3 linked regions of the Homo sapiens genome follow. The protein of the gene in region 2 purifies or fractionates together with the protein of the main gene of each other region. This does not show direct contact. Each region holds a gene or a part of one and is shown on either strand. Other genes may lie near its edges.

The links. The genes of interacting proteins can lie anywhere in the genome.
Region 1: the proteins of SPINK4 (region 2) and MINPP1 purify together in Homo sapiens (affinity purification with mass spectrometry; 2 studies listed by BioGRID and IntAct, with this or other methods). This does not show direct contact.
Region 3: the proteins of SPINK4 (region 2) and SPPL2B purify together in Homo sapiens (affinity purification with mass spectrometry; 2 studies listed by BioGRID and IntAct, with this or other methods). This does not show direct contact.

Annotation. Positions count from the first base shown.
Region 1 is NC_000010.11:87,501,026-87,507,913, reverse strand, and holds the start of MINPP1 (multiple inositol polyphosphate phosphatase 1 isoform 1 precursor), read right to left. Parts: upstream 3,022-6,888; 5' UTR 2,999-3,021; coding exon 2,362-2,998; intron 82-2,361; exon of another isoform or gene 1-81. UniProt on the Homo sapiens protein: Multiple inositol polyphosphate phosphatase that hydrolyzes 1D-myo-inositol 1,3,4,5,6-pentakisphosphate (InsP5[2OH]) and 1D-myo-inositol hexakisphosphate (InsP6) to a range of less phosphorylated inositol phosphates.
Region 2 is NC_000009.12:33,235,675-33,243,176, forward strand, and holds the start of SPINK4 (serine protease inhibitor Kazal-type 4 precursor), read left to right. Parts: upstream 1-4,492; 5' UTR 4,493-4,534; coding exon 4,535-4,595; intron 4,596-7,502.
Region 3 is NC_000019.10:2,338,684-2,345,704, reverse strand, and holds part of SPPL2B (signal peptide peptidase-like 2B isoform 2 precursor), read right to left. Parts: exon of another isoform or gene 6,954-7,021; coding exon 6,864-6,953; intron 6,641-6,863; coding exon of another isoform or gene 6,637-6,640; coding exon 6,497-6,636; exon of another isoform or gene 6,415-6,496; intron 5,882-6,414; coding exon 5,739-5,881; intron 5,630-5,738; coding exon 5,533-5,629; intron 4,808-5,532; coding exon 4,691-4,807; intron 2,495-4,690; coding exon 2,413-2,494; intron 1,741-2,412; coding exon 1,666-1,740; intron 1,344-1,665; coding exon 1,281-1,343; intron 1,153-1,280; coding exon 1,053-1,152; intron 453-1,052; coding exon 375-452; intron 1-374. UniProt on the Homo sapiens protein: Intramembrane-cleaving aspartic protease (I-CLiP) that cleaves type II membrane signal peptides in the hydrophobic plane of the membrane. Functions in ITM2B and TNF processing.

The DNA of each region.
Region 1 (6,888 bases), on a different chromosome or scaffold from region 2:
TCTCAATTAACCTTCCCAACTCTGTATTACTTTACAAAGATTCTGCTTTGGACAAAAACTACTGACAGCAGCACAAAACGCACTGATGTTTTGGGTCTCCTGTGCTTCACTGTGCTGGGCCTGTGAATTGGTTTATCTTTTAACTGAAGCCCCAGATAACTTTCTATATAAAATTTAATAAATTACATTATGCCCCCAATTGGGCAACAAATATGTATTGGAGAAGCATTCATAATCATGCTTCAACTACTGGTGTGCCCTTTACGTTTTTTTCAGTCATATTCAAAACACACATTTTTCAATCATTTCTCCAACAATTTACCACGAAAAGAACACCAAGTATATCATTTTTGTACATAAAATATGAGAAAATTGAATATAGTTTTATCTGGGCTTTGGATGTGTATGCAAAAAAAATCAGTATGTATGTTTGTTTCTCTTGAAATGGATAATTCTGCCCACTTTGTCAACTGGATTGCAATTCTTAAGAAAATATCTTGACTAGGAAAATAAGCGAACTTTGTCACCTTTTTTCTGTGTACACTAAAATATAATTTCCCAAGTGCATCTGGGTATTTTATCCTTGTTACTATCTAATTATTGCTAGTCTTTAAACAAAAACAAAGGCATTGTTCTGTTTCTACAAAACTACAAATCTAATTCAGCAGACTCCCTCAAAAGACCAGATGTACATAATAGGCAAAACTATTGTCTATAGAGAATAATAAAGTGGCTAGGCAAAGGGTTTGCTATCTGACACTGAAAACGGTCAGGAGTGGGCTTATTCTGAACTGTAGTATTTTCATCCCTGGCTCTGTACTGAGAGTCAAATGCCAGTCTTCGCAATGCCATCTGAGAACAAAAATTCACTTGTTCCAGGAAGTCGCTATAGATATTGTGTTATATTAAAATATGTTCTGCTTTCACCATTCTGTTAATTTAACAGATTTATGAGGAATTTTCACTCATGCTAATGGAAAAAGTATATATTTAAAAAAAAACACAGTTCAACAAGTAATTAGACACAAGTCAGCTAACTGAATTACCCACAATAACATGACACAGAATCAGTGGAGAAATCCCTTACAGATGGTTTCACTGTTCAACAGCTACAGAAGAAATTACAAACCAGCCTACTTCTAATTTTTCACTTGGGCTTTGAAGCTAAACAATAATCCTCACTTCAATTCTGGCCTTAAAAGTGATCAAGAAACTATTAATGCTTGCTCATCTCTGTGGTACAAAAATGTTACATGTTTTTATTCTTATTAGGTATGTTATTGGACAAATGGAGGCAGTATAGCATAATGGCTAAGAAAGCAAGCTCTGAATCAGATTTCCTGGGTCCACAGCTAGCTGTATGAAAATGGGCAAATTATTTAATGTGTTCGTGTATCAATTTCCTCATCTTTGAGATAAGGGGAAAATACTATCAACTCCAGATTGTGGTTGTAAGGATTTTGTAAAATAAATGTGAGGCATACCTGGCATACAATAGGCATGAGGTGTATGCTATCATTATTATTTGTAACTATTACAACATTTTCTAAGAGAAAAAGAACCATTCTAGGAAAACAGAAGACTTGGATACTAGACCTTAGAGAAAGACAATTAAGAAGGCATACTCTTGGGCTCGGGTTCTTCACCTGTGAAATAACGGGGCCTTACTAGATGATTTCTCAAATTTCGAAAAAGTGTAATTAATGGAATAAATGAGTTGTTACTGCTTGTGACCACGGACCACAGCTACAACGATGGGAACGCTACAGTAAAAACATGAACAAAACAGAAGAAAAAAGGAGGACACAAAGGCTTGAGATCAGGTTCCTAAAACAGGGTGTAGGTCTAAAACTGTCATCTGAAAAAGATGATGAGTTTAAAAAAAAAAAAAAAGAAAGAAGGAAAAACTAGTATCGGAAGCAAAGCCCGAGGAAGAAAATTCTAGATTCTGTTTTTTAAAACGTGCGCCCAATTGTGAAACTAGACGCCAGGGAAGGGGGAAGGGATGGGTTGGCGCTCGAAGGGGCAATTCAGTTTGGGAACGGGAGCGCAAAAATTGCGGGAGACCTCGTCTGTCCCCTTTCCTGTTGGATCCCCAACTCTACTAAAGCAGGCAGCGAGTACAAGGTGCTGAATTTACACCTGATGAATTAATAAATGAACATACGTGTAAGGGGAAAAAGAGATAGCCAAGTCTGTAATATCCCTCGACAGGGAGGACGTAGCCCGAGGGATGATGGCTTGGGAAAAGAGGAAAGAGAACTGGGGGGCATCGGAAAAGCCCAGGGTCTGGGGGAGGCGGGAGAGCATCCAGGGCGGGTGGGAGGACCGGGACAGCACACGGGCCGCCCGGGGGGTCACCTGCGACGTCCGGCGGCGGCAAGCCAGGGTGGTAGTGCTGCCACAGCCCCTGCAGGAAGGCGGCGCTGCTATCCATGCAGCGGTGCTTGGAACTGGTGATGAGCCGCAGGCGGCCGTAGTTCTCACGGCTGAAAAGGGCCGGGAAGAGCGAGGCCAGACGCAGCGCCAGCTGTCGCATATCCTGCCGTCCCTTCTCTACTAGCTGCCCGTCCATCCAGTCCGCGTACCACAAAGGCCAGTCGGCCAGCGCTGCACCCAGGTCGCGGCTGCCGGTACTACTAGCCCCGCCATCCCTGGACCCGCGGGCCTGCAGCAACCCGTGCAGCTGCCTCAGCTTGCGGATCTGTTTGACCGTGGGGTAGCGGGTGCCGTGGCGAATGAGGGCGACCAGCTGCACCGGGGTGCAGGTCCCCTCCAGCAGCTCAGGGTCCCGCCACGGAGCCTCGGGGCCCGACAATAGCACGGGGTTGACATCCTCGTAGCGAGTCTTGGTGCCGAAATAGGGGCTGAGCGACGAGGCCACCGGGTCCCTCGGCTCTAGAAGAGAGCAGCGCGCAAGCGACGAGAGCAGCGCCGCAGCCAGGGCCGCGGCAGGCGCTACGGAGGTCCGGAGGAGGCAGCCGGGCGCGCGTAGCATCGTCGGGACGGTCAGTGGAGTGCGCCGAGCCAGCTGCAGATGCCCAGCTTCCGGCTCCGGAGGGCAGGGGGCGGGTCTGGAGGGCGCTTCCGGCCGGCGGCCCTCGGGATGCGCTTCGCTGTTCTCTAGGAGGTACCAACCTCTGGCGGTGGGTCTTGCGTCCCGGCGGAAAGCTCCGAGGAGTCCTGTAGACTTGTGGCTCGGGTGGAGCCGGCGGAAAACCCCGAGAAGCTTGAGACAGCCGTGGCTGAGGTGGAGCCGGCGTCGCTGCCCTGGAGCGTGGGCGAGTTTCCTCTTAGCCGGAGCTTCAGGGATTGACTCAAAGACTCCTCCGCTTTTTTAGTTGTTTTGGGTGTGAATACAGCCCGGACTAAACCTTAGTCGCCTAGACTAAACCTTAGCCTCCCAGGCTGCCAAAACAGCACAGCTTTTACAGATGACTCTTACATCACCATCCCTACTCTGTGATACTGTGTTTTTCAAAGTTTAGTGCCTGAACCATCAGCATGAAATCTGCCTGAGACGGTTGTTGAAAATTCACATCGCTGGGCCTTGCGGCAGGATGCCTCTTGAAGCCCAAGGTTTTTGTTTCGTTTTTTTCCATTTGAGTTTGAAAATAAACAGGATACAGTAAAGCAGAGAACTTGGAAAGGGGCTTACATTCTGCAGGAATTTAAGTCCTGAATCTTTGGTATAATCTTGACCTGGACTACCAGAGCTAACGCCGACATCAGTGAGACAGCACCCTAAAAGTTCTGTGCTTGTTGTTCCCGAAGGCTTAGCGAGTAGAGACATAGCAATCTAGAGAATTTGGGTGCATTGAGTCATGGCCCAACAGATTTACTCTATTATTAAGTATGAGCTAATCTGCTTTGCGAAGCAAACATGCTCTGTATTTACCACCACTCCAGATCCATACGTTCCTCCCATGTACTTACTTACATACTCAAATCAAAAGCTGGGTTTTTTAATAGGTTATTGCTCAGAATCTTTGACCCCAAAAATCATAAGTCTGAACAATACCTTGTTTTTTCCCACTTGAACTCCAGTTTATTTGCCAGCTGGGGAAATAATAAGTATTACAGAAGTCGTACGGTGATCCAGATTTAAGGAAATTGGGACCACGTTTTCATTAAGTTAGCTTTTGCTTCAAAGACACTATTACATTGCTCTTTATAAGCCCATCACCATCTTTACTCCTTTTCTCTTTAAGTGTCTCCTTGGTTTAGAGAGGTGTTCCTCTAAGTTTAGGCGTGCCTCTAAATGTTAACCAAGAAGAAACGGGGCCAGCCTATGAATGCTGAAAATTTGGAGACGTTCTGTGCAGGAAACCATCTTTAGGGCAACAGATGTTCTTTTCGATATGCTATTTTGTAGCATGTCAATGCCTGAATATTCATGGTCAGTGATATTTTTGTAGAACTTTGCTCAAATTAGCATTTAGTAAATATCCGCTCCTTCTTAAAATAGACATTCTAACCCGTATGCTCTATAGGCTGAGTCGCCTGATAATATTTCTAAGTGCATTCAGCGAGCATTTGTTCCAGGTTCATCTCACTGTATTTTGCCTAATACATATGCTTACTAATAACTTCTCACACCCAATCTTTTGAGTCCTAGGGGTTACCAAGTGTTCCCAAAGTCATTATTCACTTCTTCCTTATGAAGCAATCTTTAGAGACTCCACTTACAAAATGTATGGCACAGTACACATTTTTATACATGAAATTTGCCCCTAGTTTGATTTTATTTTCCTTATCTAATTCCTCATCAATTAATTTTATCCTGTTTTATACACTTAGGTATATCAGCTCCTAATTATTTTGATGTTATGCCAAGATAACAATGATAAAGTAAAAGTAAGCAATGCCTCCATGTTTTTGGCTAGGAAAAAGCCAAATATAAAGAAGACGAAGAGTGCTTAAGCTTTGGACCCAGACTCTAATTAGCTCTGCTGCTTATTAATTGAGTGACCCAAGTTCTCTGGGCCTTAGTTTTTTTTTTTTATCTGAAAATTGGTAATATTAGAACCTATATCATGGGATTATCATGACAGAGATGATGTATTTAAAATCCATATGATAGGCCGCTATAAATGATATTTTTATCATTACTAATGTTCAGTGTGATTATTCCTGTGCTAAGATGCCTAGCTTTCTAGCAATTACATGGATTACACTTACTCCCACTGAACATTAAAGTGAATGACTTTCACAGGCAACACATGCATCAAAGATCATTTCATAACTTTTCTAATAATAAAAATCCACTCATTTCACTTAAAATGGATATCTTGTTCTTAGAGCACTAAGCAGCCTTTGAAAAAATTTAAAAAGGTCACAGGCCGTGCTCCTCATTTCATGCCAGACCATGTCTGAATTATCTGGGCACTCTGTAAATTGGATGCCCTTTGACATAGGTGCCCACTTGGTCCAATCATGTAGTACAGAGAAGTTTGCATAGTGCGAAACATGGCTATTCCTTTGCAGAGATCATGGGAACATCACCTCCCCTCATAAGAAATTGTGGGTATGGGAGCAATATATTTGGCAAATCTAACACAATACAAGAGGCAGAAAGGAAAATTAATGGTTCAAGGTCCTTGCAGAGATGGGAGAGGACAGAACCAAAAACACAGGTAGAGAATTTGATTTGGGCCAGAAGGAGATGAGACCTTATCTTCTAAGAGAATGTTAGAAGGATGGGTGAACATGGGGATAAATTTGTAGATCTGGCAGGAGAGAGTTCATAGAATTCAAGTCTGATGGCCTCAGTTTCCACAGTAACATAGGAGACAAGTTTGAAAGATGGGGGAATAGGAATTAAGTCTTGAAATGTGAAAATGGTTTGGATTTGCAACTGAGAGAAATGGGAAAGTAATGGGAAAGGATTGACAACTAAGAGGAATGGGAGAAACAAGTAGAAGTTTGTATGGTCAGCTCTGGAGATCCAACTGAGAATGAATTGCTAGTGGTTCTGCAATTTTATTTAGAAGCAAACATTATCTGTTGTATTTTTTCAGAGTGGAAAAGAAAAAAAGTTTAACTTGATGGTCCTACATTAATGGGTCTTGAGTAGAACTTCATTTCTAATCAATCCACTATACGAAAGGATAAGCTCAATTATTTTTGCCAGATTATCCATAGGATTTCAAAAATAGTCATTCAGCTTTTAAGATTGCATGGTGTCAGCCAGGCACAGTGGCTCATGCCTGTAATCTCAGCACTTCGGGAAGCTGAGGTGCGTGGATCACCTGAGGTCAGGAGTTCGAGACCAGCCTGGCCAACATGTTGAAACCCCATCTCTACTAAAAGTACAAAAAAATTAGCTGGGTGTGGTGGTGGACGCCTGTAATACCAGCTACTTGGGAGGCTGAGGCAGGAGAATTGCTTGAACTTGGGAGGTGGAGGTTGCAGTAAGCTGAGATCACGCCATTGCACTCCAGCCTGGGCAACAAGAGTAAAACTCCATCTCAAAAAGAAAAAAAAAGATTACATGGTGTCATATATAGTATTTTAAGTTAACAGCCATCTACTTTACTTTTAAAGAGGTTACTAAGATAGTTTTCTGGGGATGAAACAATAAAGGAAAGGAAACAGCTAAATTCTGTAGGGAAACAGCAAGGCTCTCTATGTAAGCATATACAATACTAAGAACATGGTCTCAGAAGTTAGACTTTCTGGTTTTCAGATTCCAGCTTCATCTCTTATTACCTGTGAAATATTTAAAAAATTAAATTATTTTGCCACCATTCTTTTTCATTGTAAAGTGGGGATAATAATACCTAGCCATGAGACTGTTGAGAGGATTAAACGAAACAGCTTATATAAAGACTTTATATAGTTTCTGCCCCCAAATAAATATCAGTTGCTTTTATTAAGCAGAATTAA
Region 2 (7,502 bases):
AGCCTCAACACTTATTGAGCACCTACTGTGTCCCACGCTCAGGACTGGGCACCAGGGCAATAGAGATAATTGAAACATTGTCCTTTTTCCCAGACAGCTTGCAGCTTAGTCAGCAGATGGATAAGCAAGGGCCACCAAAGTGCAGGGGGAAGACACGGATGGAGGAGACAGAAGGCACAATGCGAGTGGGGCATTCAGGGTGGGTGACAACAGTCATGACCTTGTTGGTGAAAGGCAGTTAGGAAGGTTTCAGAAGAGGGAATGTTTAAGCTAGGTTTCACAGGATGGGAGTAGGGGGATAGAGAAGGGAGACCCAGCATTGCCAGCAGACAGAATAAATTGTGCAAGGGGTTCAGTTGAACTGAAGAAGTGCAGGTCCAGGGTGGGGCAAGGTGAAGGTGAAGCTGGAAAGATGGGTTGGGATCAGATGTTGAAGGGGTGTGGTCACCAGGCTAAGGAGTTTGGGCTTCTTCCTGTTGGCAGTGGACGCCATTACAGTGTTTTGGGCAAGATGACCTGGTCAGCTTTGCTCTTTAGGACGCTTGTCCGGGACGCTGCGTGCAGAGTGATTTGGAGTGGCAGGTGGAGAGCCAGGGATATGAGACAGGACACCATTGAGGTGGCCAGGTTGGAGACAACAGTGGCCAGGACTAGGGTAGAGTGGGGGGTGTGGAGGGGCAGGGATGGATTCAAGAGCTATGTAGGAAGCAGAACCTAGACCCTCCATGGGAAGGCAAACAAGGCTGAGGGGTCAGTGCCTGGGATTCCACTGCCGGAGGTTGCTGGGATGTGGGTCAGGGGAGCAGAGATCAAGGCTTATTTAGCCCCCACTGACCATTCCAGACTCCTGTCATGGCCCTCCCCGGCTCCCTGGCCCCACTTTGCCCACATGGCTTCTCTGTTCTTCAGATGTGAGAAGCTTCTTCTTGCCTCAGGGCTCTCACACATTCTGTTTCCTCTACCTGCAGCACTGTTCCACTTGGCTACAGCCTGCCCTGCCCACTCAGCCCTTGGCGTCTCTGATCTCAGATGGATAGGTCACTCTTGGATCCTCTCACAGAACAGAGCATGTGTGGTTCATGGGACTCACTCCAGCAGTGATGATACAATGCTGCTGCCCGTTCAGTACTGTGCCTCTACTTAACCAAAGCTCCTGGAGGACAGGAACTGTATCTGACTCACTCTCTGCCATATCCAAGCACTCAGCATGGAGCATGGCACTTAGCCGCTTGTTAAACTTTTACTGAATACATGAATGGTGAATTAATGGTGAGGTTTTCTTGGATGCACTGACATCCTTAATGGGCTGTTCAATAGCAGTCGGATATAGGAGCTAGGTTCACACTTTGATGGGATGACAGATTACGAAGTTTGTTACTATGAGTGAATCTAGAAGGTATTTGTCTGAAGAGGAGACCTTGGGGTGGGCTGGGATGGTAAGTGAGCTCAGTACTCCACAGGCTGCCCTTGACTTTACTCTGTACTTTGAAGGATGCAAAATTCAAGCGTCCTGGCTCCTTGCAGCAACTAGAATGTTCAGTAGCCATTTCTGCCACGTGGATAGAAATCTAAGGTCCAAAACAAGGAAGGGATCAAATCCCTTTGCTCCCCTCTGTCCCTTCCTCACTGTAACCTGGGACACTGACAGACAGACCTGTCAGTGATCAGATGAGAAATGGAGAGAGGCCCAGGAGCTTCACATGTGCAAGGGTAGGAGGCAGGCAGATGGCAGACCTGCTCAGCCTAAAGGTGCTTGTGCAAGTACAGGAGGTTCATGCAAGTACAGGAGGCCAGAGACAAAGCTATAAGCCCCAAGGACTCTCAGGGAGGCAGACCTCTTGTGTGAGGAAGGACTGTCTTTGTTCGAAGCCATCCAACAACGAAACTGGTAGGTAGTGAGCTCCCCATCACCATGAATGACCTCCCAGTGGGGCTGCTGTAGGAAAGCCCTAGTGGAAGAAGGGAGATGAAACCCAGATGACCATTATTTTTTATTTTATTATTTTATTTATTTATGTATCTATTTATTTATTTTGAGACCGTCTGGCTCCATCACCCAGGCTGGAGTGCAGTGGCGCAATCTCGGCTCACTTCAACCTCCGCCTCCCTAGTTCAAGTAATTCTCCTCCCTCAGCCTCCCAAGTAACTGAGATTACAGGCACACGCCACCACACCCAGCTAATTTGTGTGTGTGTGTGTGTGTGTGTGTGTGTGTGTGTGTATTTTTAGTAGAGATGGGGTTTCACCATGTCAGCCAGCCTGGTCTCGAACTCCTGACCTCAGGTGATCCATGCAGCTTGGCCTCCCAAAGTGCTAGGATTACAGGCGTGAGCCACCACACCAAGCCTATTTTTATTTATTTATTTATTTATTTATTTATTTAGGCAGTTTCTCGCTCTGTCACCAGGCTGGAATGCAGTGGCACAACCTTGGCTCACTGCACCCTCCACCTCCCAGGTTCAAGCAATTCTCCTGCCTCAGCCTCCTGAGTAGCTGGGATTACAGGTATGCGCCACCACGCCTGGCTAATTTTTTGTATTTTTGGTAGAGATGGGTGTCACCATGTTGACCAGGGCTGGTCTCGAACTCCTGACCTCAAGTGAATGCACCCGCCTCAGCCTCCTCCCAAAGTGCTGGGATTACAGGTGTGAGCCATGGTGCCTGGCCCCAAGATGACCTTTAAAGTCCAATTCCCCTTTTATAAGATGGCGTTTTTGCTTTAGGACAGGAAGTCATCATTAAATATTTTCTCTACCTGCCTAAGCAATGGAAAGATAGCTGCCACCTGCCTCAGAGGCATCCCTGGGACTGTGCAGTTTCCTAAGGAGGAACGGAAGGATCTTGAAGCTGAGTCAAGGATCACTGGGGGCCTCAAGCTAGTCTTGGCCACAGGTCTGGGGCTTCTATGGGTCTGTAGAGGTGACTGGATGGCTGGTGTCCCCAAAGGGACTGTTCTTTTTTTAATTAAAAAAAAAATTTTTTTTTAGAGTTGGGGTCTTGCTATATTGCCCAGGCTGGTCTCTAATTTCTGGGCTCAAGCAATCCTCCTGCCTCAGCCTCCCAAGTGTTAGGATTACAGGCATGAGCCACCGCACCTGGCTGGGGCTGTCCTCAAACAAGAATCCTTCGCCTTGTCATTGGAATATTCTTGCAACTTATCTGCAGGCTTGAAATCTTTCGAAATAAAGTTTTTCTTTAAAAAAAAAAAACACAGATTCTGATTTAAATATTTCAGAGCGAAGCTCAGCATCTGTATTTGTAAATTCTCCCCCAGGGAAATCCAATCTGCAGACAGAGCTGAAAAACACTGATCTAAATGAATTAGAGAAACGTGTATGTAAATAAAATGTATTTTATATATCAGAAATTCTTTGAGAGCAAATATCCAAATGACTTATTAATGTATACTATGTAAGTATGGGGGAGTTTTAGAAACTGATTTTTCTTTAAAAGAATCTTGTCTTTATTTAACCTATGAAGATACAGATGAGGCCGCGTGCAGTGACTCATGCCTATAATCCCAGCACTTTGGGAGGCCGAGGCAGGCAGATCACGAGGTCAGGAGTTCGAGATCAGCCTGGCCAACATAGTGAAACCCCGTCTCTACTAAAAATACAAAAAGTTAGCTGGGCAGGTGGCAGGTGCCTGTAATCCTAGCTACTCAGGAGGCTGAGGCAGGAGAATCGCTTGAACCCAGGAGGCAGGGGTTGCAGCCAGCCGAGATCGCGCCAGGCACACCAGCCCGGGCAACAGTGTGAGACTCTGTCTCAAAAAAAAAAAAAGCAAATGAACACATAATACCTGCAAAGCAAGAAGGCATCTTCCTTTTAATGTTTTATTTTGCCTTTGTTTTGCCTGTTAGTTGTGCCCACTTTGCGGTACAAAAAAATAAGTGAAATAAAAGTAAGTAAAAATGATCATTTCTGCTTACGTTTACAGCTCATTTCATATTCTGCAAAATGTTTTCCCGTCTGCTATCACCGCCGCCATCCTCACAGCAGCCTGGGAGAAAGGCAGAGCCAAAAGTCTCATCTCCACTTCGTGCATGGGTGATCTGAGGCCCAGTTAAGAAAAGTGGCTCTACCGAGGTCCCAGAGTTGGTTGCTGGAGGCACTGGCAAAGGAATCCAGGCTCCAGCCCCCTTCTCTGCCTCCTGCCATCTTCCAGTTGCTTTTTTCCTTTCTCTCTTTCTCTATCTCTTTCCCCTTCTCTCTGCCTTGAACTCTCTCTCTTTCTACTTCAACTTTCCTCTCCTTGCTCCAACCCTCAGATTGGAGTCAGCTTTGCAAGTTGTCCAAACTTTTTGTCACTCTGGAAACCTGCCAGCCCCATGGCCACAGCCCCATCTCATCAAAAGCTCAGCATCTGCACCTAGAGCAAGCCCTTTCCGGATGTCAGCGTGCAAAGATTAACTCTGGTCTCTCCATCTGGCCCTAGATAAGATAAGATTAGGAGAGCGGCACTATAAATAGGCCCCCATCCTTCCTCAGGCGCAGGCCCCAGCCAGCTCAGGCTACACTATCCCAGGATCAGCATGGCCGTCCGCCAGTGGGTAATCGCCCTGGCCTTGGCTGCCCTCCTTGTTGTGGACAGGGGTGAGTGGGCAGAACCTGGATTCTCTGTGGCTTTGTGTTGGTAGGTGAGCTTGGGGTGAGAGCAGAAGCAGGGCCTGGAGCACCCTGTGAGGCCTCAGCTTTTTCCATGTACCTTCATTCTGCATATGCACCCTCCACTGTGCTGGGGAAAGTTCTGGGCTGGGAGAAAAGAAACTTGGGTTCAAATCCTGACTGGCGCAGAATTACCAAAGTCCCCTACCCTCTTGGGGCCTCAGTTTCTCCAGCTGTAAAAGAGGGCATTGTTCCAGTTCAAAGCTGCACTGAGCAACTATTGGGCTGGAGGCTGTGGGGACAGAAGGGAGCAGGTAGGTCCCAGCTCTCAGGAGAGACTGACAAGTATGCTGGGTGCAGGGTGGTGGATGCTAAGAGAGACCTGGCCGAGGTCTTCTGAGCTCCCGATCTCTCTGAAAGGCTGTGGTTTGGGACTTGGGCAGCCATGTGAGCACGACAGAGCCCTTTCCCAGGACTGGACACATATACTTGGGGCAGGGCCCTCTCAGGATCTGGGCCATCCCTGCAATCTCACAGCTACCATGTCAGGCACTGTTCTGAGCCCTTAAGACAGATTAGTGACCCAAACAGAAAAAGCACGGTCCTGATGGAGCATAAATCCAATGGGGTAGAGGAAAAGGGGAAAGGCAATAAACAAGATGGTTACAATGTATGTTAAACGGTATGTTAGAAGCTGATAAAAGTTAAGGAAAAAATACTTGGCAGGGTGATGGGCACTGGAAGGGGGTTGCAATTTCAAATCAGGGGAGGTATCTCTGAGAGTCCGATGTTTGAGCAAAGCTTGAAGGAGATGAGGGACTAAGCCATGTGGATATCTGGGAGAAGATTCCAGGCAGAGGGAACAGCTCAGGTGCAAAGGACCTGAGGCAGGGGCATGCCTGGAGTGACTGAGGTACTGTAAGACCAGTGTGGCAGGAGGGGACATTGTACGGAGTGATAGGAGAGGAGATGAGAGAGGCAAATTGGAACTGTACCGGGAAAGACCTTGTTGGCCAACATAAGAACTTGGCTTTTCCTCTGACTAAAATGGGAGGCACTGAAAGCTTTGAGCAGAGAGTTATGTCTTTCAAGGGTTGCTCTGGTTGGTACATTGAGAATAAACTGAACAGGGAAGCGGGGAGACCAGTTAGGACCCGCCTGGACAAAAGCCATAAGTTATAAGGCAACGCCTGGCAGGATCCAGGGCCACTGACCTCATGGCCAGTCCCACACCCATTTCCCCAGCTGGAAACAGACCTGGGCACAGGGGGAAAGGGAAACGGGTCTGGGGACCTGTTCAGGAGCAGCCTGCTTACGCCCAGCCTGGCACCTACACCTACCTACTCCTTGAGCAGTTGGGAACACTGAAAAGCCTGCTCTGAAGAAGTTTGGTTTTTGTTTGTTTGTTTTTGTTTTTGTTTTTTGCACATTTCAGACTACTGCCTGGGCTGAGTGAGGAGGGGGCATTTTGGGTCAAGGTCAAGGGCAGCCTGGGGGTAAATGTAGCTTTTCCCCACATCCCCCAGAAAGAAACTCTGACATCTTAGAGTTCTGAACACCCCCTCCTCCCAATACACTTTAATTTTTTTTTTTATTTAAACAAAAATTTTTTTTTCAAGACAGAGTCTTGCTTTGTTGCCCAGGCTGGAGTGCAGTGGCACGATCTTGGCTCACTGCAACCTCTGCCTCCTAGGTTGAAGCAATTATCCTGCCTCAGCCTCCTGAGTAGCTGGGATTACAGGCACATGCCACCACACCCAACTAATTTTTGTATTTTTAGTAGAGACGGAGTTTCACCATGTTGGCCAGGCTGGTCTCGAACTTCCAACCCCAAGATTTGCCCGCCTCGGCTTCCCAAGGTGCTGGGATTACACCAATGCACTTTAGTATTCAATTCCTGAACACCCACAGTGTAGGACATTGAACCAAGTGCTGCGCAAAGGCAGACATAAAGGAACCCCAAGGAGCTCAGGTGCATAGGGAGGCGGGGTGACCCAGTGAGTGGGACAGTACATGGTGGTGTGAAAGAAGCCTCCATCCAGATCTGCTCAGGAAACTGTTGGGGACGTCAAGGACAGCTTCACTGGGGGGCAGCATCAAGCCTTGAAAGGAGGGTATGATTCGGCGGGAGGAGAACGGAGACGAAGACATTTCAGGGAGGGGACATGGCATGAGCCAAAGCAGGGCCCAATCTAGGACCCGTGAGCAGAGAGGAATAGCTGGGGCATGGAGAGGTGTACTGGGAAGTCAGCCCAAGAAGCAAGTTTAGGGTCAGCTTACGCAGTACCCTAAACATAAGACTAAGCAGCTCAGGTCCATAGGGAGGCTTAGTGATCAGGACAGGGAACCACGGAAGGGCTTTATATTTTTTAAATGCTTTTCTTTTCCCTAACAGTTAAATATCAAGAAATGCACAAATCTTATCACTCGATGAATCTTGACAATGTATACACTCGTGTAACCCAAACCCCCATCAAGATACAGGACCTCTTGAGACAAGGACTTAGGGAAGAAAAATAAATACAGAACATTTCCATAGCCCCAGAAATTCCCCTATGTCAGTCAATCCCTGCCCCCATCCCAGTGCTCTGACACTTTTTTTTTTTTTTTAAGAGACAAAGTCTCACTCTGTTGCCCAGGCTGGAGTGCAGTGGTGCAATCATAGCTCACTGCAGCTTCAACCTCCTGGATTCAAACGATCCTCCTATCTCAGCCTCACAAGTAGCTGGGACTACAGGTGCGTGCCACCACACTCAGCTAATTTAAAAATTTTTTTAAATTTATTTTTATTTATTTATTTATTTATTTTTGAGACGGAGTTTTGCTCTGTCACCCAGGTTGGAGTCCAGTGGCACAATCTTGGCTCACTGCAATCTCTGCCTACTGGGTTCAAGT
Region 3 (7,021 bases), on a different chromosome or scaffold from region 2:
AGGAAGAATGAGAAAGAGGGGGTTGCAGGCACAGGCCCGGGGAGAATGAGAAAGAGGGGGATGCAGGCACGGGCCCAGGAAGAATGAGGAAGATGGGGACAGAGGCACAGGCCCAGGAAGAATGAGAAAGAGGGGGTTGCAGGCACAGGCCCGGGGAGAATGAGAAAGAGGGGGATGCAGGCACAGGCCCAGCCACCCGAGCCCAGCTCCCGGAGTGGCCAGGGGGTTAGGGTTAGGGTGTTATGGTTACGGTGTTAGAGTTGGAATTAGGGTTAGGGTTGGGGTTGGGGTTAGGGGTCAGGGTCAGGACAGAGGCTAAGTCGGGGTGGGGCTGGAGCCAGAGAGGCCAGCACGGGCCCAACCGAGGCACTTACCGATGGTGCAGGCCACGAAGTATACCCTGGAGGACTGTACCTGGATGTCAAACCTGTGGCAGTAGGCCACCAGCAGCCCTGGGGGAGGCACAGGGCGGAGGCTTACTCGGGCCCGCAGAGCCTCAGAGCAGGGGCTTCCTGGGAGCGGGCGGGCACCTGAGCACCTGTGGGCGCCGTGGGCCTCTCGCTGCCTGGTGGCTGCTGTCATTTCACAGACAGGCCACACGCTCGCTCGGGACAGGGCTGCCATGACTCTCAGTGGGTAAACTGAGACCACAGTGAGAACAAAGTCCAGGCAGACACACCTGGCAGGACCCTGGGGACACTGAGGCTGCGAGGGTACAGTCTCTGCCTTCTGCAGCAACATGAGCTCACTGGGACCCGGGATCCAGGCCCCAGCAAGGACCCCTGCACAACCCCGAGCAGGATGGGGTGAGGCTGTCTGCAATCGGGGGGCCTTCCCCGCTCCCTAGGAACAAAGGGGGTCCCTACCCCACCCAGGCAATGCCCTCGCTGCCCAGGCACCCAGGCCTCAACGGCCCCAACCTGCCCGACTCTGACCCTCAGGGCTTTATCTCCAGCCGACGGTGTGCGGGCCACTCACTCCCAAAGGCAAACCTCAGCCGCCCGGGGCCCTGCCCCACAGCGTGGACCCGTGTGCTCCACCCGCCTCAGTACCTGGCACCAAAATGTCTCCGAAACCCAGGAGGGAGAAGGGCCGGTCACACAGGGCCAGAGGTGAGGAGTTCAGCCTGGGCACCTTCAGGACCATGGGCAGCTGCAAAGACGGGAAGAGGACAATGTCCTCCAGGACCCTCACCCGGCCGCGGGATGCCTCGAGCCCTATCCGCTCCGCGCAACACCTTGACCCATGGCAACCTGAGACCCTGCAGTCAGAAGACACACCTTCTCACGGGTGGCTGAGTCCGAGGGCCCAGTGGCCACCTCCACCATGATGCTGCTCCCACTCTGCACAGAATGGGGTTGAGTGAGGGAGCGTGGTGATGGGGTGGGGGGGCAGGGGAGTGGGGTGATGGGGCGAGGGGGCAGGGTGATGCGATGGGGGGGTGCAAGGGGCAGGGTGATGGGGGGTGATGGGGCAGGGGAGCAGGGTGATGGGGTGGAGGTGAGCGGGGTGATGGGGTGGGGGGCAGGGGAGCACGGTGTGGGGTGGAGGGGGACGAGGGGGCGGGACGAGGGGGCGGGGTGATGGGGGGGGTGATGGGGCGGGGGTTGCGAGGGGGCGGGGGAGCGGGGTGATGGGGTGGAGCAGGGACAGGCAGTCGCCTACCTTGGTCAGGAAGGGCGTGATGAACACGAAGAAGATGTCGTAGAGGAACAGCACCAGCAGCAGCAGCGTGCAGGCCTGCGAAGCCCACGGCTGAGGGCGGCCCCCACCCCGGCCCGTGCCTCCCCCACTCCCATCTCATGAGGCCCAGCGCCTCCTCCTGGGAGGCAGCCTTTAAAGGAACCTGAGCAGAGCGTGCCCAGTGCCAGGGACGCACCACGCAGGAGGAGCTTTGGAAGCAACATCAGGTAGGGATTTACGGGCAAAAGTCAGGCTTTTAGAGTCTCCACGTAACAGGAAGGCGGGGACGGGAGGGCGGAGGCCTGTGCCACGCAGGGCCGGCTCTGGGGATACAGAGGGCCATCCTGGGCATTCAAATGCCGCTTGCTTGGGGTGCTGTGGGGCCCTCACGGGAGTGCAGCCGCCTGGGGCTTGACAACATCCCCGCACTCCCGGTACCACCTGAGGCCAGTTCCTCCAGCCCTATTCAACCACTCTCACCACCACCTCATCTAGACATGAGTTGCCCCTGCCGGGAACCGCCCCGCAGCCACCCACCCAGGCCGCCTCAGCGGGGGCTTTGGGACCCAATCTTCAAGCCCCACCCTTCACAACAGGCCTAGGCGGCCATCCCCAGGGCAGTGAGCAGGAGCACAGACCTGCAAGGACCACAGCCCCACACGGGCCAGGCTAGGATGAAGGGCCCCCACTACCCATGCTGCCCCGCAGCCGTGCCCTCCCTGCACTCACCTTGAAGGTGGGCAGACGGATGGTCTTCAGCATGTAGAGGCAGAAGGCGATGCCCAGGGCATCCTGGAGGACCCAGGCCCACCTGCAAGACAAAGCAGCATCCTCGCCGGGGCAGAGGCTGGCTGACCACCCAGGACGCCGCCTCCCACGAGCCACACAGGGCCCTTGCTCTCAGCCAGCACGCAGCCCCACTGCCCTTCCACCTGCCCAGGGGATGACTCTGAGGACCCCAGACCTGTGGGAGGACCCCTGCTGTTACAACTCCAGCAGGGCTGGCGGCACAGGCCCCACCCCAGGGCCCACCCTGCGGAAGCAGGTAGAGGAGCCCACCACTCGGCAGCCAGGACAGTGGACACAGGCCTGGCCGGCTGCGTCTCCTCGGTCGCTGTCCCCAGATGGTGGGGCCAGGACGGTGGACACGGGCCTGGCCGGCTGCGTCCCCTCAGTCGCTGTCCCCGGATGGTGGGGCCAGGATGGTGGACACGGGCCTGGCCGGCTGCGTCCCCTCAGTCACTGTCCCCGGATGGTGGGCGTCACGCTGTAGGCAGGGGTCACAGGCTGTAGGCAGGGGCCAGGCAGAGGGTGCGTGCGCAGGAGGGCTTGGGCACTGACCCCTCCAAACTGTTTTTATTTTGTTTTTGAGATGGAGTCTCACTCTGTCACCCAGGCTGGAGTTTGGTGGCACGATCTTGACTCGCTGCAACCTCCACCTCCCAGGTTCAAGCAATTCTCCTGCCTCAGCCTCCCAAGTAGCTGGGATTACAGGCACACACCACAATGCCAGGCAAATTTTTTTGTATTTTTAGTAGAGATGGGGTTTTGTCATGTTGGCCAGGCTGGTCTCAAACTCCTGACCTCAAGTGATCTGCCCGCCTCACCTCCCAAAGTGCTGGGATTACAGGCATGAGCCCCCGTGCCCAAACTGTTTATTAAATTAAAACTTGTGCCACACCAGGTTTCCTCAAAGAACCTCTGGGTCCACAGTGGGTGGGGCTGCCATGCGGTTGGTGCCCTGGGGCAAAGCACAGAACTGCCTCCTGCACAAGGCCACGGCCCCTGCAGCCAGCCGCAACTTCGGCTCTCTCCTGGCCCCACGAAGCCCCAGAGTCCCCTCCCCGCTGGCCCCTGCCCCCAATGCAGGCTCTGCCTGTCACTTGCTGGACGAGTTCCCCAGCGTTCCTCAGCGTCTCAAACATCAAAGGCTTCATTTGAAAATGGGATAAAAACATCTCCAGGGCGGGGCGGCTGCTAACAGCAGAGGCCTCCATGGGAGACGCTGGTACAGCCAATTCCAGGCGCCACGTACTTCAAGCACCCAGAGAACTGCGGCCAGTTATTTTTTCTGATTTTATATTATTTCTTAAATAGGGCGTCTCGCTTGTTGCCCAGGCTGGTCTTGAACTCCTGGGCAAAGTGATCGTCCTGCCTTGGCCTACCAAATGCTGGGATCCCAGGCGTGAGCCCCTGCGCCCAGCTGACTGAGGCCTGCTCTAACTTCATGTGACGGAGCGAGTTTCCTGGCTTGGAAATAACTGAAAAGATTCATTTTCTCTTTGTGTACAAAGGATTCAAAATATTTTCACATCTTCCTTCTGCCAGTTAAACGTGCCGTGGCTCCAATACACACCAAAGCCAAGCGTACTTGGCTGCCTCAGGAAGGCTGGGAGGAAGTGCCAGATGGTATCAGCGACAGCGGTGGGGACCGGGCGGGGACGGGCCAGCTCTGTCCTCCCAACACGGCACCAGGCACTCGGCCTCATGGGGGAGGCCCGGCCAGCGGGAGGCAGCCACAAGTCCAGGCCACGTGGGAGGTGAGCGTGGGGGGAGCAGTGCCTGCCCCACCTCCACCACTGCTCAGAAGCCGCAGCAGTCATGACCAAGAGGACCGGGTGCCCTGGTGCCCACACCCTGGGCCTCGAACCTGCGGCGTGCACGTGGGTGCCAGGAAAGGGACAGCGGGGGACAGACTGTGGCCCTGGGCAGCGATGCCCCACAAAGGAGTCCCATCCAGGCTGGAGGACGTGGCTCCTGGCCACAGGGGCTCCGGCCTCTCCTCCCGGATTCCAGTCAGGGTTCCCATGACACCCGGACAAACCCCAGGTGAAACGCCCTCGCAGCCCTGTCAGAGCAGCCCGGGGCCAGGGCTCTTCATCACGCGGTGCTGAAGCAGCTCCAGGCTGGGGCGGCCTCCAGGGAGGGCAGGGAGTCAGGGCCCCAGGAGCCCTGGTGCACCCGAGGACTCCGCTGCCCGCCGGGGCCCGGGGGAAGCAGCACTTACTGGTCCTCGTTGCGGAAGACGCCCCACACCACGCTGACGGCCACGCAGAAGAGCGCCAGGAGCAGCATACGGGCCTGCGGGCGCTTGTGGAAGTAGGGCAGGCTGTTGTTGGGGATCCTGGGGGGCACGGGGCAGTCAGAGCCAAGCCCACCAGCTCCCGGCCTCATCCCACTGCCCACCACCCTTGGGACCGGCCCAGGCACCCCCTGCAGAGTGGCAGCCCCCACTCTGTTGTCCTCATTAAACTCCACATCCCACACGATGACAACAGTAGGCACCCCAAGGGCAGGGCAGAGCCCGACCCGGGCAGGCGCTGGGGGCCACGGGCTGTACCCACAGAGCCCCTCGCCTGCGCTGCGCCCCTTCGCCCGAGGCCCTGCCTGCTCCAGACCTCCCACCTCCTCACCCAGGGACGGCAACACAAAAAGGTCTCCCCCTGGGCTAGCCCCGCTTCCTAGACCCAGGTCTGACTTTGTTGGAGACCCCCCAGCAGCTCCCTTTACCCCTAAGAGCCAGGCCAAGCTCTGGGCTGTGGGGAACCTTCTGGGTTCCCCGGAGAACCCTGGGGAACCCAGGGTTCGGCCTGCGACCTGGGGCAGGGTTCCTGGGGACAAGGGCACCCTCCCCCCGCCACCCCTGGCGCCTGGCTGCTGGTGGGCTCCATTGATAGCTCGCCCAGACTCCGCCCTGCTCCTGGGCCTAGGAGCCCCAGGCCAGCACTGAGGGAGCGCCTGCTGTAGACTCTGAGCAATATTGCACCATGGGGGGCTATGGGGCGGCAAAGGGGCCGTGGCCATCACCGCACAGAGTCAGGCACGTCGGGGCCAGCAGGGCAGACTCACCTGCACTTGCCGAAGGGCAGCCGCCGCACACAGGGCGCCAGGCAGCTGTAGAGGCCGGTGGCGGAGGCCAGGCAGAAGATCCCGATGACCACGTACACTGCAGGGGCAGGGCCGTGAGGCCGGGGGCCAGGCCCGCACGCCACCCTCCCTCCGCACGGGGCGGGCTGCATCTCCACGCCGCGGCCCACCCGCCCGGGGCCGCGCACCGAGGAGATCGTAGAAATAGTAGAGCAGCACCAGCATGGAGCAGCACATCACCACAAACACGCAGGTCATCACCGGCGTCACGTCCACCGCCTCGTCCTCCTGCTTCTCGGGCCCATCGTCGCGCTTGTGCTTCATGTACCTTCTTGGGAGACACCATGGGGTCGTGGGGCCCTGGGGCCGGCTGGCCGACACGGGGCTCGGGAGCCCACAGCCACCCGGGGGAACGGGGCAGAAAACCCGGGAGCAGGAGGGGACCCGGGGGGGACTGAAGTGCAAGGAACCGCCCCGAACGTCCCCAGGGCAGAGGAGACCACACAGCAGAGGGTGGCAGGGCCCGCGTCCCTGGGTTGAGCTGGGGTGGCCACTAGGCCGGGCCAGAGGCTGGCGTGTGGGCAGCAACCGCAGCTTGGATCTGCATAAAGAGCCCTGGACATGGGGCCTCCCCAGACCCAGGCGGCTCAGCAGGAAGAGGGTAGCTGGCCCCAGCCACCTGCCCAGCCCTGCACCTGCCACGCCCGTACCTGCCACATCCACACCTGCCCAGCCCTACACACCCACCAGGTGCCCGGAGCCCACCCTGGCAGGAAAAGAGACTGATTCTGTCCCAGGACCTCCTGAGGAAGAAACGAAGGGCTCCACGGGGCGAGCCGTGCCTGCCGAGGCCAAAGCACTCACTGCTGTTCTGGAAGACTGGCCGTCCCGGCCCGTGTCAGAGCCGCCCGACCCCGTCACAGCACACGCACGATGCGAAACTCACTTCTTCACGTCCCGACTCCCGGCCCAGTAGCCGCCGATGGCGACGGTGCCCACAGCCATGATGAAGATGATGACCATGTTGTAGTCCAGCACCGGCTCCTTAGGCGCATACAGCGCCGCCCTCACCGTGCGGCCGAAACGCTGCCTCAAGGAACACACCGGAGGCAGGCGTCAGAGCCACCCGCCAGCCATGGGTCGACGTGCAGCTGTGGGCTGTGGGGCTGGGGCTGGAGACCCTGGCCTGCAGGGGCCACGCCTCACCCACCACCCTGATCCCACCAACTGAGGCACAAACCCCCCCGGCAGCCAGCCCGAAGCCCCCTGCCCCATCTCCTCGGGAGCGTGGGTCTGAGCCGGCGCAGACCTACCGTGAAGATGTCCAGCATGTCTTTGTAGCTGAGCAGGGCCACGGGAATGCCAATCTCATCATACTGCGTCTTATTACCCCCCGGGGGGACCTGGGGGCCCAGAGGAGGGAGCGGCAGGCATCACCCGCAGCAGTGGGTGGGCCCCCAGCTCTGTGCCC